Regions from separate parts of the Homo sapiens genome. Here region 1 is linked to region 2. Evidence: fine-mapped expression QTL. Tissue or cell type: sigmoid colon. Region 2 holds a variant in brackets; the other region holds the start of a gene. All regions are shown on one strand. Distances are from middle to middle.

Region 1 (8,000 bases), 430 kb after region 2:
CAGTGACATAATGAACTCTCCTACCCAATGTATCACAAGCTCCTTAAACTGAATGTAACTAAAACTGAGGTTGTCACACTGAAGTTATTATGAACCCCTTGTTAACCCAGGGTACCACCAGTTTTCTGGTCCTCAGACTGAAAAACTTAGAATCACCATTGTCTCCTTTTCCTTCATTTCCTACACTCAATGCTACACGTGATGAGAAAGAAAGAGCTTTGGGCTCAAATATGGGTCTGCATCTCAGTTCTACCAATTATGAAATTTATGAATTTAGGCAGATTATTTAACCTCCCTAAACCTCGACTTCCTGACCTGTTTAAAGAGGGAAATAAAAGCCTGTCAAGGTTTTCTGGAGGTGCAAATGAAATTATCTCTCAAGTTACTCACCCAGGGAATACTGGTTCACTTTTCCCTTACACAGTTGCTTTTTTTCTGCTAATGGAGGACTCTAGTTCATACCCCAAGGTTTCCAGCTAATCCAATCAATTTCTACAATTGTATCTCTAGCAAGAAATACACACACACAAACACACACACACACACACACACACACACACACACTCATATACCCAAGTGCCTACTGGTATTTTTAGGCCAAGCTTCATTCCCAACTTCCATGAAGCCTTTCCTCATCTTGGTTTCTCAAATGTGTATTTCTATGGCATTGATTTCTATCCTGTGTCCTTATTTCTACTTGATTACTCTGTTCCCTCACTTCCACGACAATCTAGTTATTCTATTAGCACACGTCTCATTTTAATGCCTTTAATAATGACTGCCTCTCAAGTATAGTGTAAGATCTTCCCTTAGGACAACACAGGTAAAGTCCTCTTCCACCTCCAAATGACACTTTTTCAAATATTTGATGGCATTAACTCTTAACTCCTTCATTTTTTCTTCTTCAGGATAAACACTGATACTTTTTAAAATGATTCCTCACATGAAATGCTTTTAATCCACTTAACAAGTTAGAAATCCTCAAAAGGAGGACAAAGCTCCATGTTATAAAATTTAGCCAGATATCTCAAACATGATGTACCAGCTTAAAGTCTGATACCATGTAAAGATAACCTAAATGTAAGCTTGCTTCTGCACACTGAATAATTTCAATTTCCTTGATTTAGTACATTGATCTCATTTATCTCATCCCACTACCAGCAGATGACTTACTTCCCAGTATCACACTTCACCTCCATTCCCAGGGCCATTTTCTAATACTACGGTAATTAAAATCTCATTAAAGTTGTCAGATAATAGTCTAAAATAAGCTGAGAGAAGCTTTAAATATGTTAACCTACTATTGTACTTCTGTGATCATTCAACAAGTATTTAATATTGTGCCTGACTTCTGTTTTGAGAAGCTCCTGGAGGGGGAACAACACAAGTTTCTATTGAAAAAAAAAATGCATCAGTTTCCTCAACTCTATAATTGGGCATAATTACAGGAACTACTTTAAGTGTTGATGAAGACTAGTAAGAATATATGTAAAACAACATTTCCATAATGGGAGGCATGCAGTAAGGGCCACATGAGTCTTAGCTATTATTATAATTTTCTTTACAATGGTACAAAGTGTTCTTCAGTATTACTATTACTAATAGTGAAACCACATGTTTTGTCATTTTTAAAAAATCTGGCTTAACATCTTGGGCTACATCAATTTGAAGACCAGCTGAGGTCCAATTTCTCTTGATCATCAATTGTTAACAGCTGCAACAGATAAAAGCGATGCACAGCAAAGACGCGTACCCACAAACATAACAAGGGCACAGGCAGCCATATCAAATTATGATGCACATTTTTCAATACTACCTACCAATTCAGTGGAAGTTTTGGATGGAATTTTATGGCTAAATTTCTATCTTCCTTCACGTCAAAAAGTTGTTCCTGTAACAAACTAATGGGGAGGTGTTGCATTATATTTTGAATGAGTTCAAAAAGTCACCAAAACTCATTTGAAAAAGTTTTAAACATGGTAGAAAATCGAGCTTCTACAGTTTATGAGTATACAGGACAACTTTTATGTACAATATATAATTTTCAGCATTAAACATACAGTAATGCAAACACGTCTACATCCCCTTTCAAAATCCTGTATTAGAGAATTTCCTTCCAAAACAATTGCTTTTTCACTTAAAATTTTTATCCTTTACCTTAACGACAAATTACAGTTGGCTCTCCGTATATGCGGGTTCCACATCTATAGATTTGACCCAACCACGGATACGGAGAGCAGACTGGAGGACTTTGGCATGGGTGGATTTGGGTATCTGAAAGAGACTGGGGGGAGGGAGGGAGTCCTGGAGCCAATTCTCCACGGACACCAAGGGACGACGGGAAATGTAGTCAATTTTTTAAAATAATATCCACCTGGAAGCATGCCACTGACAAGCCTGGAGCATGAGTTGTTTGTGAAAGCAAGCTTTAAAAATCTTATCCTTGGTAACCCTTTCAAGTGGTTTTTCATTAAATAACATGTAGAGGATGGTGTAAAGGGGCAGTGATGGGGAGAAGCGAACCTGTAAGAACTATTTTGTGTTACAAATATTATCAAGGTCACCGCTCATTCTTTTACAAAACAAGATAAACATTCTAATTATAGATATTAGAATCCATAAATCCACTTAACTTCGAACACCTAAACTATGTCACAATATCAGAAAGCAAACAAACCACCCTATGAAGCCCACACATTCCCCTTAAAGCTTCCTTGGTTGCTACAGGTCATCTATCTACAAGGGACTGCCGGTATCTGTGTCAATGGTAGGAAAGTGTACTTTCTATCATTGTTTGGGCAGCTGATATAGCCTATTTCTTTCCCTGTATGTACTTTCTCCCGTACTCAGCTTTAAGACCACTGAACTAAAACAATTCTCAGTCAGCAGAGCCCTGCTTTCTAATCCAGGTCTAGAAAGTTCCAAACGTGTAAGTAAGAGCCCCACTAAAGAAACCATGTTCCATTTGTAAAGCTCTGTCAAATTCTAAAAGACCCAGAGCCCAATAGTCACTTATCCCAGTCCCTTTTTTACCAGAAAGTAAATTCAAAGGGCCAGTATTAGGGTCGCACAATCTGCTTAGGGGTCTTAGAATCTATTTTCCACCTTCCCAGCCACCCCTCCTACACTCACTTCTAGATACTTAAAGACCAGTCCAGAGCCAGGATGCTATCAAAGTCAGCAAAAGAGGAAGACACAGAAAAAAAATAAAGAAAAAACAGAGATTTTTTAAAGGGGCCGAGGGAGGAGTTTACCAGTTTCAATTAAGGTTAACGAAGGCTACTCTCGACTGACCCTCTACCCCAGGAAAGGAGGGGTACACTCCAAGCGCTCACGATCTCAAGGGTCCTTAGCAACGGGGTCCAGCGGCCCTAGCAACAGATCAGGAAGCAAGCCGGCTTGGCAGAGAGCGCAGACAGGACACCTGTACCCGCGGTTCACGGCTCCGGGGACCCGTTCCTACCGCGCCTCTCTCCCGCCGCGATCCGCACACCAGCTGCCCCCCACCGGGGGGGGCTTATGACCGGCACTCGGTCGGCCAACAACCGCGGCTACCGCCACCGAGCGCCTGCGTTTGGGGAAATGAGGCTCCGCGCGGCCCGCCCCTGAACCTGGTCGCGCCGCGCAATGACGTCAGACGCACGCTGCGTCGTCTAAACCAATGGTAAGAGGTCGCGGAGGCGCCCCAGAAGAGGGTTGCCCAGGCAACCAGGCGCCAGGAGTTCAGGGGGCAGCTCACGCACTGCAGGCGCTGTCTCTGGCGACAAAGGGGCACGTGGTGGAGGATGTTTTTCGAATAAGAGGTCCGGAGAGCAGAGGGACGATGACGGGTTCCCAGTCGCCTGCGCCCTAGCCTCTCTTCAGTCCATGTGCTTAACTCCTAAACGCTTTTCTCGCACACTTAATACTCATTGTTCCTCAGCTATCTTACCCTCAATACTCGGAGAACTGAAGACTGTGAACTCCTCCCCCCGAGTCTTCAGGGGTGAGAGCCGAAGCCATCTGCATGCCCAGCTGTGGGATTTTCTTGTAGTTTCCTGTTCTATCTGGCTAAATCATAAGCCTAGCTGTGGAAATTCGTTTCCTGTCGTATTTTATGAATCTCATATGCTATTGCATTCTTCACAGTATATCCGCATTTAAATAGTAAAAAGCACGATTTTGTGCTCTACATTATTTTTAATAGTAAAAATATTTAATAGTGAAAAGCACGATTTTATGCTCCACATCATAACAAAACTGATGCTGCAGGAAAATGCATATTCCCTTGTATTGCATTCCACCAGCAACAATTTGGGTTGTCATAGTTAAGTCCAAGCCCTTTGGACCTGTCCACTGCACTCCTCTTTAGCATCCTCTACTGTTGCCAACCCAAAGCCCTAACTTTTTGCTTAGGTAACACTAAATTGGCATTGTCTGAGCACTCGAGGCTGTGTAATCCTTCTGTGCTCCTGTAGCTCCATCCTTGCTACTTGACCAGCACCCCAGAAGCATCTTCATTAGATTGTGAGTTTCCTCAGGATAAGGATTTTAACTTTGCCCTTTTTATTTCTCCAGCTTCAAGCATAATGCAGTGGGTATTCAACTAATGTCTTCTGAATGAATAAAATGAATTAATAAATTCTGTCTATGTCTAATTTCTCTAATGTTCTGTGAACCTTGCATACAAATCTAAGTTTTAAAATTTATTATAATGTATTTACCTATCTTTCTCACTAGACTGAAATTGTCTTTATTGCTTTTCTATCCCCAATGCCTAGCGCAATGCATGCTTAACTAACGTTTTTAAAAGGAAAAAGAAATTTTTAAAAAAAAAAATCTTATATCCTGTATCTTCAGCTACTTTTACTTTATAATCTCTCATCTCCAGCTTCCTCAAGACTTATTATATTTTCCTTACTCCTAGCATCTCCAGTGTCAGACTCAGTAGAGCTCCTAGTTCGTGACCTTTTAACCCCTCCTCCCTGGACTATAAGAATGATTTGTATTCAGTATCGCAGAGGAATGACAAGCATATGTGTTCTGGAGTTAAGCTATCTAAAACTCACCACCCCTTATCAGCTATGAGTCCTTGTGGATGACGACTCCTACAAGCCTCAATTTCCTCTTCATTATTGGGTTATTGCGAGACTTAAATTTAAGAGGACAATTGAATACCTGACACATAGGAAGTACTCAATAAGTATTAGCTAGTGCAATTATTCAGGTGAAAGCAAATTAAGACTAACGTGGAGGACATCGTAAGTGGCAAAAGTCTCATGCTATGTGTTGGTGTATGAACCATGGACGATGACACGGATTTTTCAGATCTTTATAATAACAATTAGTATAAGCTTCTCCTAATCACAGTTAAAACAGCCTCTTCTAAACTTTCTGTCATCATTTTAGAAAATGAACAGAAAACATGCTCCTTGGCATTGCAACTCTATCAGGATATTATGCAATAAGTGGTGGGTGCTTTCTTGAATACACTGGTTTGACAAGCCTGTGAGGCATCCAGGGGGAGCTAACTAGCATGCTGTTGGATCTGCTCATCTAGAGGGCAGGAAAGAGAACTGGGCATAGCTATGGATTTTTGAGCCATCAGCATATGTAGACGCTGAGTTGGGCGATAGGAGTAATACCTTCTAGGAAAGCTCACAATATGTGAGAAACAGAGCACTGATTGTGGACTTTTGTCTTCTATTCAGGTTTTAAGGTTTAATTTTCTATTTAAGAGAGAATGGGATGAGGGAAAAAAGGTGACCTATTTGCCTAGCAATATAGTAAATGATTCTGAAAAGACAGAATATGCCATATATTTTCTGTTTGCTCTCATATAGGTACACTCTTCCCTTTGTCCTGTTATTTGCTCTGGGATGCTGATCAGCATAAACTATATCACCCAGGCTCCAGTGCCCTCTGGTTTCTGATTGGGTTTGGCTACTGAAGAACACTAATAGGAGATTAGAGAATTAGAGGAGAGTGAAGTCAGAGTATTCATTCTCCTGCTCCTATCCTTAGGGGGTTCCCTAAAGCTGGTCATACCCATAAGTGAAGATCACATCTTTCTGCTATAGTCTGATTGTTTCTGTTCCTCCAAAATTCATAGATTGAAATTTTAACTCCCAAGGTGATGGTATTTGGAGGTGGGGCTTTTGGGTGGCGATGAAGTCATAGGGTTGGAACACTCGTGAATGGAATTAGTGCCCTAATAATAGAGGCCTGAGAGAGAACACTCACTCCTTCCACTATGTGAGGACACAGTGAAACAATTTCATCTGTGAACCAGAAAGTAGTCCCTTACCAGACACTGAATCTGTTGATACTTCGATGTGGACTTTCCAGCCTCCAGAACCATGAGAAATCAATTTCTGTTGTTTATAAGCTACTCAATGTACGGTATTTCACTATAGCAGCCCAAATAGACTAAAAAACTTTCTAAATGGCAAACTTCAGTTCTAGGCACAAAATCTCAGAGGCTACTATCTCTAGGTTACTGCACTGTCTGTGTGGTACCCTGTACCTTTATAAATAAAATTTCTTCAAATTGCCCTATTTTTGTTACTCCATATTATATAACCTTATGAGTTAGGTAATAAATCTAACCAAAGTAAACCACTCAGGACGATTTTTTTTCTCATTGTGCTGGTTCTCATTGACTTGTGAAAAAATTATTCATTATTTATTTACTTACATTTAAGTCACCAAGCATTTTTAAGAAAATATTGTCTTAATTCTTGTAAAGAAAATCTCTGCCTTTTTGTACAAATTACAGACAAAGCAATCATTCCCAATGATTATTCCCAAGTCCTATCATTGAGAAATGTGATACAAGAAATTTGTACAATTTGACAAAGCACACTTTGTCAGGAAATGTTAGACATCATCATTATAAAGTCATTGAGTGTCCGCTTGCACATGGAACAAATTAAGCAGTGATAATGGCTCCTCAGGTGAAAGCAAATGAAATCAACATGAGTGAGCATATAAGGTAGCATTGTCCAATAGAAAAGTGATGCAAGTCACATAATACAATTTTAAATTGCCTAGTAGGCATATTTTTTAAAGGTGGAAAGAATCATGTGAAAGTAATTTTAGTGGTATATTTTTATTAACCCAATATGTCCAAAATATTATCACTTCAACTTGGAATAAATATAAACACTATTAATGTGATATTTTACATTCTTGTTATTTGTGCTAAGTCTTCAAAAGTTGGTGTGTATTTTACATGTATAGCACATTTAAATCCATACTAGCCACATTTCAAATATTCAATAACCACAGATGGCTAGTGGCTACTGTATTGGACAGTACAGAAAGCTATGGCCACTGACAGTTGGGCAAACATAGAATGAAGTCAATAAATGTGTCAAATAGCTAGAGAGTACATACTGTTTGTACAACAAACTATTAGATGTTGGAGAATCAATCCAAATGTAAAGGTCATGAATTGGGTATGAACCTCAGACTACAGAGTCAGTGCAATTAACAACTTCCTTTATGGTTCATAGTAGTATTCAATTTCTTTTACAAATGTCTTTACCCTTTCTCTCCTTGGAATTGTGTTGAGAGGATGAGGCTTGGAGGAGTGTGGCATCTGGTCCTCTGTTGTCATCTGCTAGGATATACGTACTTTGGTCTTTCTGGTCCTCAGTCATTTATCCTTCATTCTTGTAGATTGCTCATGTGTTTTTCATTCCAGGTTCTCATTGAGAGCTAATTCCAATCTCCTCTTAACTATCCAGGAGGTAATCTATTCTTCCAATCTGAAGCCTAAGAAATTCAGCTGTTGGTTTCTACCTTGTAGAAACCATGGGAACCTATGAGGTTGCCGTAGAGTCTTTTGTCTAGACACACTACAAGGCCATTTCTTCTCATCCTATACCCTAGGTTCAGGGGTATCTAGGGGCTTATTAGCTCTGGGGTATTGCCCTGGGGGGAGGATGGAGGATGGGAAGGACAGAGCATACTGTCTCTTTGCTCTCAGATCTAGACCTTGACTCTGACTGATGACA
Region 2 (8,268 bases):
AACTTGATGAGTTTGCTTGGACTGGAGGAGGACTCCCTGCCATGTCTCTTAATATAGACATGTCTAAACCTGCATCCCAAGAGAATTATCATCAACTTAGGCTTTGAGAGGTACCTAATGGAGGAATGGAGGAAAGGACAGGAAACATCTGGAACATTCTTGTTGTTCTACCTCTAGCAATCAGTTTTCTCAAGATTCAGCACACTGTAACTTCTAGTTTACAAACCCAGTGAAAACCCAATGCCTATTTGCTGAACTAATAAACACAGAAGAGTCAGATCATATTTTAGTGTGGTAATATCCGAAAAGAGAAAGGCAAGATTGTGCGTGTGTACTTTTCTGCTTCCATTGTTCCTTCTAAAAATTATCCTTTGCTAATTCTCCAGAAAGATTACTCGCTTCCTCCAGTGGTAATTTGTTCTTCAGGCAAGTCATTAGGTGGGGAACAGTAGGTCAGAAAACAAAACCCTTTGTACCATAGGCCACTGAACAGTGGTAAATAAAATTAAAACATAGAGACATGTTAGGACCTTAGGGCACGGCAAGCATCCGGAAACATTTCAAGGCTCAGAAAATTTAAGACATTACTTTAAATTACACAGCCAGTGTCAGAGCTAAGAACAGCTCTAAAGACAACTTTCTCCAGATATCTACATAGTATATTTAAAACCCGTGGTAAAATATTTTTGTTTTGGAAGATGTAATAAATACTACTACTTAAGCTGTTTACATGAATAGTAACAGTTATGACTGACTGCCAATTAACTTGCAGGGAGCACTGTTAAGCATTTCATAGGGAATATTTCAATTAATATTTGTAATAACAATAGGAGGTGGGTATTATGATTTCCCGCATTTCAAAATAGGGACGTGGAGCTCAAGGATATTCAAGAGCTGACCCAAGGAAATAAAGCCAGTAAGTGGCAGAGCCTGGGTAAACCTGTGTGTTAGGCTTTCGAGCCCAAGATTTGCCCCTTTGTGCTGCTCATGAAGGACACTTTGTATGCAAATATTCTGAATAATCAAAAACTACTACCCATACACTCTTAAAAATAAGTTTTCAGTAGAATAGATTGTACGTATATGTAGATTTAATCTTTATTTTAGGATTAAGATAACATTTTAGGATTTTGCAGTATATCAAGTTAATAATCCTCAGTAGGACTTGCCAATTTTCCTGCCAAAAATACAAACATGATGCCTTACAGTAAGTTCTACACTAAAAAGTGGTGACTAGTTTAGTGGTTGAAGAAATATCTGATAGAGCCCATATTTTCTATGAGTAAAAGGTCTACAAAAATGGGGATGCTTTGCACATCTTTACTTTAGGGGTCCAATAGACCCTCACTAAAATCAGTGTTTCTGCATAAGAATGTATATTGCAGTCTATGAAGTCATTTAATAAGTCTTACCTAGCACCAGTCCATATCATTTTGAAAGCACTGCTTTCCCTCTTTGACCCATTCTACACCTCTGCTCATCTTAATTGAAGAGAATAATGCTTTTGACCAGCAGAGAGCAGCAATGATATACTTTATAAGAGGCAGTCTGGTGAACCTGACCATCTTTTCTAAAATGTCCATTTTGTGAGACCTCTGCAGACTGTCTTAAGTGATCCCAGTCTTTGAATGGTTCATTGTAAAAGATCTCGGAGTTTACCTGAATCCGTATGTGAGAATTTTGTAGCTAGATTGTCATGTTCTAGTTCTACTGATGCCATTTGTAAAGTTGACCTTTCCTTGCAGCCTTGTCTCCTGGTGCCATCAGCATGGGCCAGGTGCCTAGGTCAAGAAGTACCACTCCATCATGGTAGTTTCTGCCCTCATTTCCTAGCTGTGTTTATGGCCGAAGGCTATGCATCATGGAGCTCTGTGTTGACTCACAATATGGCTTTCTAAGGTAAAAGACAGTTAAAGATTCATGAGAACAGTGAATGGGATTATATTGATAGAATAGTGGGCAGAGGACACAAGCTTGGGGGATGTATATTTTCAGAAAACAAGAGTAGAGGAAATGGAACAGGAATCTTGGGGAAGAGCAGAGAAGGAAAAATCTATGAGAAGAAGCCAAGAGAAGAAAGAATTTCAAGAACAGGATGGCCAATTTTCAAATCCCCTTAGTGATGTAAAAGCAAACTTAGAAGAGTTATTGGCTTTGGAAATACAGTTGACACTTACAGAGGTTAGGGATGCTGACCCCCGTTTGCAGTTGAAAATTCATGTATAACGTTTGATTCCTCCAAAACGTAACTAGTAATGACATACTTTTGGCCAGAAGCTTTACCAATAACATAGTAAATCAACATGTATTTTGTATGCTATGTGTATTGTATGTGGTATTCTTACAACTAAGTAAACAAGAGAAAGGAAATGTTATTAAAAAGATTAAAAGAAGGAGAAAATATGTTTACTATTTTTTAAATGGAAGTGGATCATCATATAAGTCTTCATCTTCGTCATCTTCATATTGAGTAGACTAAGAAGGAGGAAGAGGAGGGGTTGGTCTTACTATCTCAGGGGTGGCAGAGGTGGAAAAAATCCACAAATAATTGGACCTGGGTCATTCAAACCCATGTTGTTCAAAGGTCACCTGTGGGTGGTCTGGGGAGACCTCAGAACAAATTTAGTCTCATTTTGAGAACTCAAGTTAGATTTTATGGGTTTGGGGGGTTAGATAAGAAAGAATTGTACAGAAGGAAACTAGTGTCCAAGCAACTGGGGAAAGAAGAAAGACATTCTTTCCTCCAGGGCAGAAGGGAAGTCGAAAGATGTGAATGATGACACAGAGAAACTTTGAGTTAGAAAAGGAAACTAATGGCCTCAGTCTACTCCATGAAGCAAAACGTCTGGGCTTTCTAGTGTGTATGTTTCCTTCTTTGAAAGTTGGTGGCTTGAGAGTAAAAATTAGAAAACAAAATACAACTTAATAAAAGAAATGAGAAAAAATCTCATGAGTTTCACTGAGATCACATAACAAGAAATTATGGCAGAATCAGAAGAAATTGTAGTAATATTTTTAAAATTGTCTTAACTGTCAGTATTTAGCAAATAGGAATGGCATTTACTAAGTGGCATTTACTAAATTTACTAAGTGAGCAGTATAGATTAGGATGATGGAAGATGAAGACGGTTGATTAATTCAGGGAGATGATAGTTGAATTGCCTAACCTTGGAGCCTGGGCAGAATAGAAGACAAGAAAAGGTAGCACAAGATGTGGACTAGGGAATAAGAGTTTAAGAAAACAAGAGTTGCCATAAAGACCCACAGGACTCCATGGAAATATGGGATGCAGAAGGACTGAAGGAATCATCCTCATTTTCCGGTTGCCTCAATAATCTGCCCTGACCCTTTTAAGTTCTTGGCACATAGCAGATAATGTACTCTCTCTCTCCATCATTTGTTGAATAAATTAATAATTACACATGTTAAACCCAGGAGGTTTTGAAAATAAAGCATTAACATTGTGTATGTGAGGAAGTAGGCAACTTTTGATTGTAAATAGGACAAACCCAGAGACATTGAAAACAGGAATGTCTTAATGACGTGATCCTTCTGTCCTACTTTCAGCATCACTCAAGAAGGGAAATCTTAGCATGTGTAATAATCATTAGCAATGAGGCAATTAATGAATTCCCTTCCCTAAAAGGGATTATTTTTGAATTTTTGACATTTGCAAAACATTTTTTTTTTTTTTCTGAGATGGAGCCTCACTCTGTTGCCCAGGCTGGGGTGCAGTGGCACCATCTCAGCTGACTGCAACTTCTGCCTCCTGGGTTCAAGCAATTCTCCTGCCTCAGCGTCCCAAGTAGCTGGGATTACAGGCACCTGGCTAATTTTTTTTTTTTTTTTTTTTTTGTCGTTTAGTAGAGACGACATTTCACCATGTTGCCCAGGCTGGTCTCGAACTCCTGAGCTCAGGTAATCTGCCTGCCTTAGCGTCCCAAAGTGCTAGGATTACAGGCGTGAGCCACCGTGCCTGGCCGCAAAAATTTCTTATTCTAACATGTTATAAATCTGCATCTGCTACACAAGGACAAACACACAGGGAGATGCCTACCCCGCACTTCAGTGGTCTGCTGAATCTAGTTCACATCTTTAAAACCATAGATGTCTAGAAAGCTAAATCTGGAAGATTCCTTGGAAGCAGGAAAACCATATAATTATTTTCAAAACCAAGACACCTCTGAGAGAGAAATGAGGCACTTTTAATAATAATCTAGATCAAAGTTAAAAACTGAGAATGTCATCAAATACAACCCAATGCTCTACAGATGAGAATAATCTGGATCCAGTATCCAAGAGGATAAATGGCTTCTCCTAATCCGGCATATTCATTCCACAAGTATGAGGATTTGGGTGAACATTGGAGGCCTTTAATGATTTATAGGGTGGTGTATTACAAATACAAGTGGCAAATCTGATTCTGTCAAAGGGACAAAACTTTTAATAGTAAGTGATAGAAGAACAAGTTAAACAGAAACAGGCTGTTCTTATATGGCTGGTGAAATTCCTGTTGTTGGTGCTTTTACGAGGCTTGATAAACATTTTGCATGGAAGATTCTGAAACAAGGGCAACAAAATTCTCTTTTTTTCACATTTTAAATTATTTATTTTGAAATATTTTAAAACTTAGTAAACATCTGTCAGGACAGCACAATAAATCTCCATCTTTCACACACAATCTCCATCACAC[G/A]CCCTCCTCATTACCACGGTACCTCTCTCTGACTGAAAAAATTAACACTGATTAACACTGCCATCCAATACAATGGCCCCATTTGAGAAGCCATACCTGGAAGGTAAATTCTTTCAGATATTAACCAAGTGTTTCTAAGGTTTAGATCAAAGTCACTTTATAAATACAAATCTATCATATTGTTTATACCAAAGTATTAACTTTTCATGGAAGTACAATGTATATACAGAAAAGTATACATATCCAAAGTGTACTGCTTGATGTATTTCTAATAAACTGGACACAACAGGGTAATCAATGACCAGATCAAAAGCACAACCAGCACCCCAGAATCCACCCTTGTGCTTCCTTCCAATCATTGCCCTCTTCCGGTTTTTATTTTTGTTTTTGTTTTTGTTTTTGTTTTGAGACTGAGTCTCCTTCTGTCGCCCAGGCTGGAGTGCAGTGGTGCAATCTCGGCTCACTGCAAGCTCCGCCTCCCGGGTTCACTCCGTTCTCCTGCCTCAATCTCCTGAGTAGCTGGGACTGCAGGTGCCCGCCAGCATGCCCAGCTAATTTTTTTGTATTTTTAGTAGAGACGGGGTTTCACCGTGTTAGCCAGGATGGTCTCGATTTCCTGACCTCGTGATCCACCCGACTGCCCTGACTTCTAAAGAAGAGATTGCTTTTTTGGTTTTAGTTCTATATGTAAATGTATAACATACAATAGTGTACTTTTTTGCGATTGGCTCCATATGTTCAAAGTTATCTATTATTCATCTACATCATTGCATGCGTTTATAGGATTCTTGTTGCTACATGGTATCCTATGTGTGTCTATGCCACAAATATTTTATCCGTTTTGCTGCTGATGGACATTGATGATTGCTTTTGCTTTTTGGTTATTAAAAATGTGCCACTATGAACAATCTACTACATACCTTCGGGGAGCATATATATACAGAAATACGTTCCCTGACCTAAAATGGTTCAATTTAGGATTTTTCAACTAGATTATGGCCTTTTGGGGGTTATAATCCCAGCATAAGTCAAGGAGCATCTGGACTTACAATGGCTTGACTTATGATTTTGTAAGTTTAAAAAGGGTTTAGAGGGATATTAAGTGAATTTTTAATTTACAGTGTTTTTGAATTATGATGGATATATTGGACTGTAACCCCATTATAACTCAATGATTATCTATACATTTCTTTGGATGTCTAAGTGGGAAATTGCTGAGTCATAATATATGCATATGTTTAACTTTATATACTATAGTATTTTAAATCTAATTGCAGTCAACATAGCATCAGAGTTATAGGGCAAATTTGTAAACAGCACAGCCAGGACAAGTACCCAGAGTTATTAACCTCTTTTTAAGAATTCCTTTCTCAACCACTCATTCATTTTTAACATATTTTTAAATAGCTCCTACATGGACAATTCTAGGCACTATGAATACAAACAAACAATTTCCATGGCTTGTCTTCATGTTCAAGGAATTTAGTTTAGTGAAATCTATTGTGGATTAGCATGAAGCACAGAGAAATTTTTAAATACAAAGGCAGACCAACATTATGCAATGATGACGTTTCTTGGAACTAGTGCCTTCTGAATTGCATTTTGAAGAATGGCTAGGAATTACACAGAGGATAAAGAGAAAGAAAGAAATTTTAACTTCTGTAATGGTTCAGAGGCAGAAAAATTGCGGTGATTCTCAAACACAGCTATGCATTAGAATCATTTAGGAAATCTTTAGAAATGATACCTCAAGCAACTGATTAAGACTCTCTGCAAGTGATGCCTAGGTATCTGCAACTTTTACAATTTTGCGAGGTGATTCTAATGTAGCATCAAGACTAACAAAACTGCAAGACATTCAGTATGGCTTAGGGATATGAGGGAGGATATAGAAGGATTAAAAAAAAAAGGAACAGTAAAAAATCAGGGAATGGAAGGCCAAGGTCATTCAAGGCTCCCTCCTAGGTCAAAACGTTTTGCCGGGAGAAAATGAAAATCACATTGCCACTTGCCACTTTATAGTTCAGCTAATACAGCATGAAGTATAGGTAGGAGGATGGTATGTAAGAAGTCTTTGAGTCAGTGATATACAAAACATCATTTACATTCACACTGTTTTTTTTTTTAACATTTCTGCTTCAACACTGGTTACATTATCTCAACTTATGACACATTTATCCCAAGAACATCAACTTTTATCAGACACATTTTAAATAGCAAACTTAGCGAATCCACTCCTAAATATCTTGCATTTAAAATGACCCAAGTTTTCTGTCTATCTATATTATAAAGTGAGAAAAATTCCCCAAGGTTGAGAACTTTCGTAAATTCACTCCCATTCCCAAAGTCAACAGCAGCCAGTTCATCATTTTAAAAGCAAGTACTTTTGATGCCAACAGCTACTATATGTAAGCCAGGTAAACTGAAATGAAAATATGCAAAGTTTGCACCTGAATTACACTCCTTGCCGTGGACACAATGATGCTTGGATGAAGAGCATGGGTTCTGTGGTCAGAGAGATCTGAAGTTTTGTTTTCTGAAATTCTGTCTTCACTAATTCCCAGTGGGGTGATCCTGGAGAAGGTCATCCAATCCTTCTGAACCAAAGTTTTCTCACCCGTGAAATGTGAGGTTAACCAATGTGTATTGAGTGTCTACTTTGTCCTGAGTGCTACATAGATGCTGTCTGTTTTCACACTGCTAATGAAGACATACCGGAGACTGGGAAATTTATAAAGGAAAGAGGTTTAATTGACTCACAGTTCTACGTGGCTAGGTAGGCCTCACAATCGTGGTGGAAGGCAAAGGAGGAGCAAAGTGACATCCTACATGATGGTAGGCAAGAGAGCTTGTGCAAGGGAACTCCCATTTATAAAACCATGAGATCTCATGAGACTTATTCACTACCACGAGAACAGTATGGGGGAACCGCCGCCGTGATTCAGTTATCTCCACCTGACCCTGCCCTTGACACCTGGGAATTATTACAATTCAAGGTGAGATATGGGTAGTGTCACAGCCAAACCATATCAACAACCTTATTTAATCTGTCCGTCAAGCCTATAAAGTGATTAGCATTAATAGCCCCATTTTAAATATCAGGAAAAGAAAGCTTAGAATGGTAAGCGCCTGGCTCCAAATACTAATCTTTTACTTATCACACAGAATTCAGTTCTTAACACAAGACTTATCTAAATGGAATATTATCTGTTTCTGGGGATGCAATAAGATATGTAAGAAATAGCACATAATCATAGTGCTCCTTACTGATAATAACGTAAGCCAAAGATGGGCTATGCTAGTTTAAACATGTTGCAAATGAGAATCTTTTGCTCCCAAGAAAGTACAAATAGCTCTGTATTCTTTCTCTAAATGAGGTATGCATTGATCACCTACTATGTGGCAAGCCCTTTTCTAGGCACCGGGTTTATGAGAAGGAGTTGGTAAATAGAATAGAGACATCTGCACTTTTGGTGCCTTATAATCTCTTATGGAGGCAAACCATTTCAGGGAATAGCATCCTTACCCTCAATCCTTATAGTCTCCTATATTGGCTTCATATAGGGAAAAATCTG

What was found. PIP is the estimated chance that this variant, and not a neighbour inherited with it, causes the effect.
Region 1: PACRGL starts here. The variant in region 2 is fine-mapped to the expression of PACRGL in sigmoid colon (GTEx, PIP 0.96).

The regions. Positions count from the first base shown.
Region 1 is chr4:20,696,042-20,704,041 of GRCh38, reverse strand. PACRGL (parkin coregulated like) reads right to left here and starts at 3,584. Exons shown (of 9, transcript NM_001258345.3): 1 at 3,255-3,584. RefSeq lists an enhancer at 3,352-3,471.
Region 2 is chr4:21,128,441-21,136,708 of GRCh38, reverse strand. All of the region lies in intron 1 of KCNIP4 (potassium voltage-gated channel interacting protein 4), which reads left to right. Among named protein-coding and RNA genes, the nearest start is that of MIR7978, 330 kb to the left of the region's middle. The variant G/A (reference allele first, on the strand shown) is at 4,694.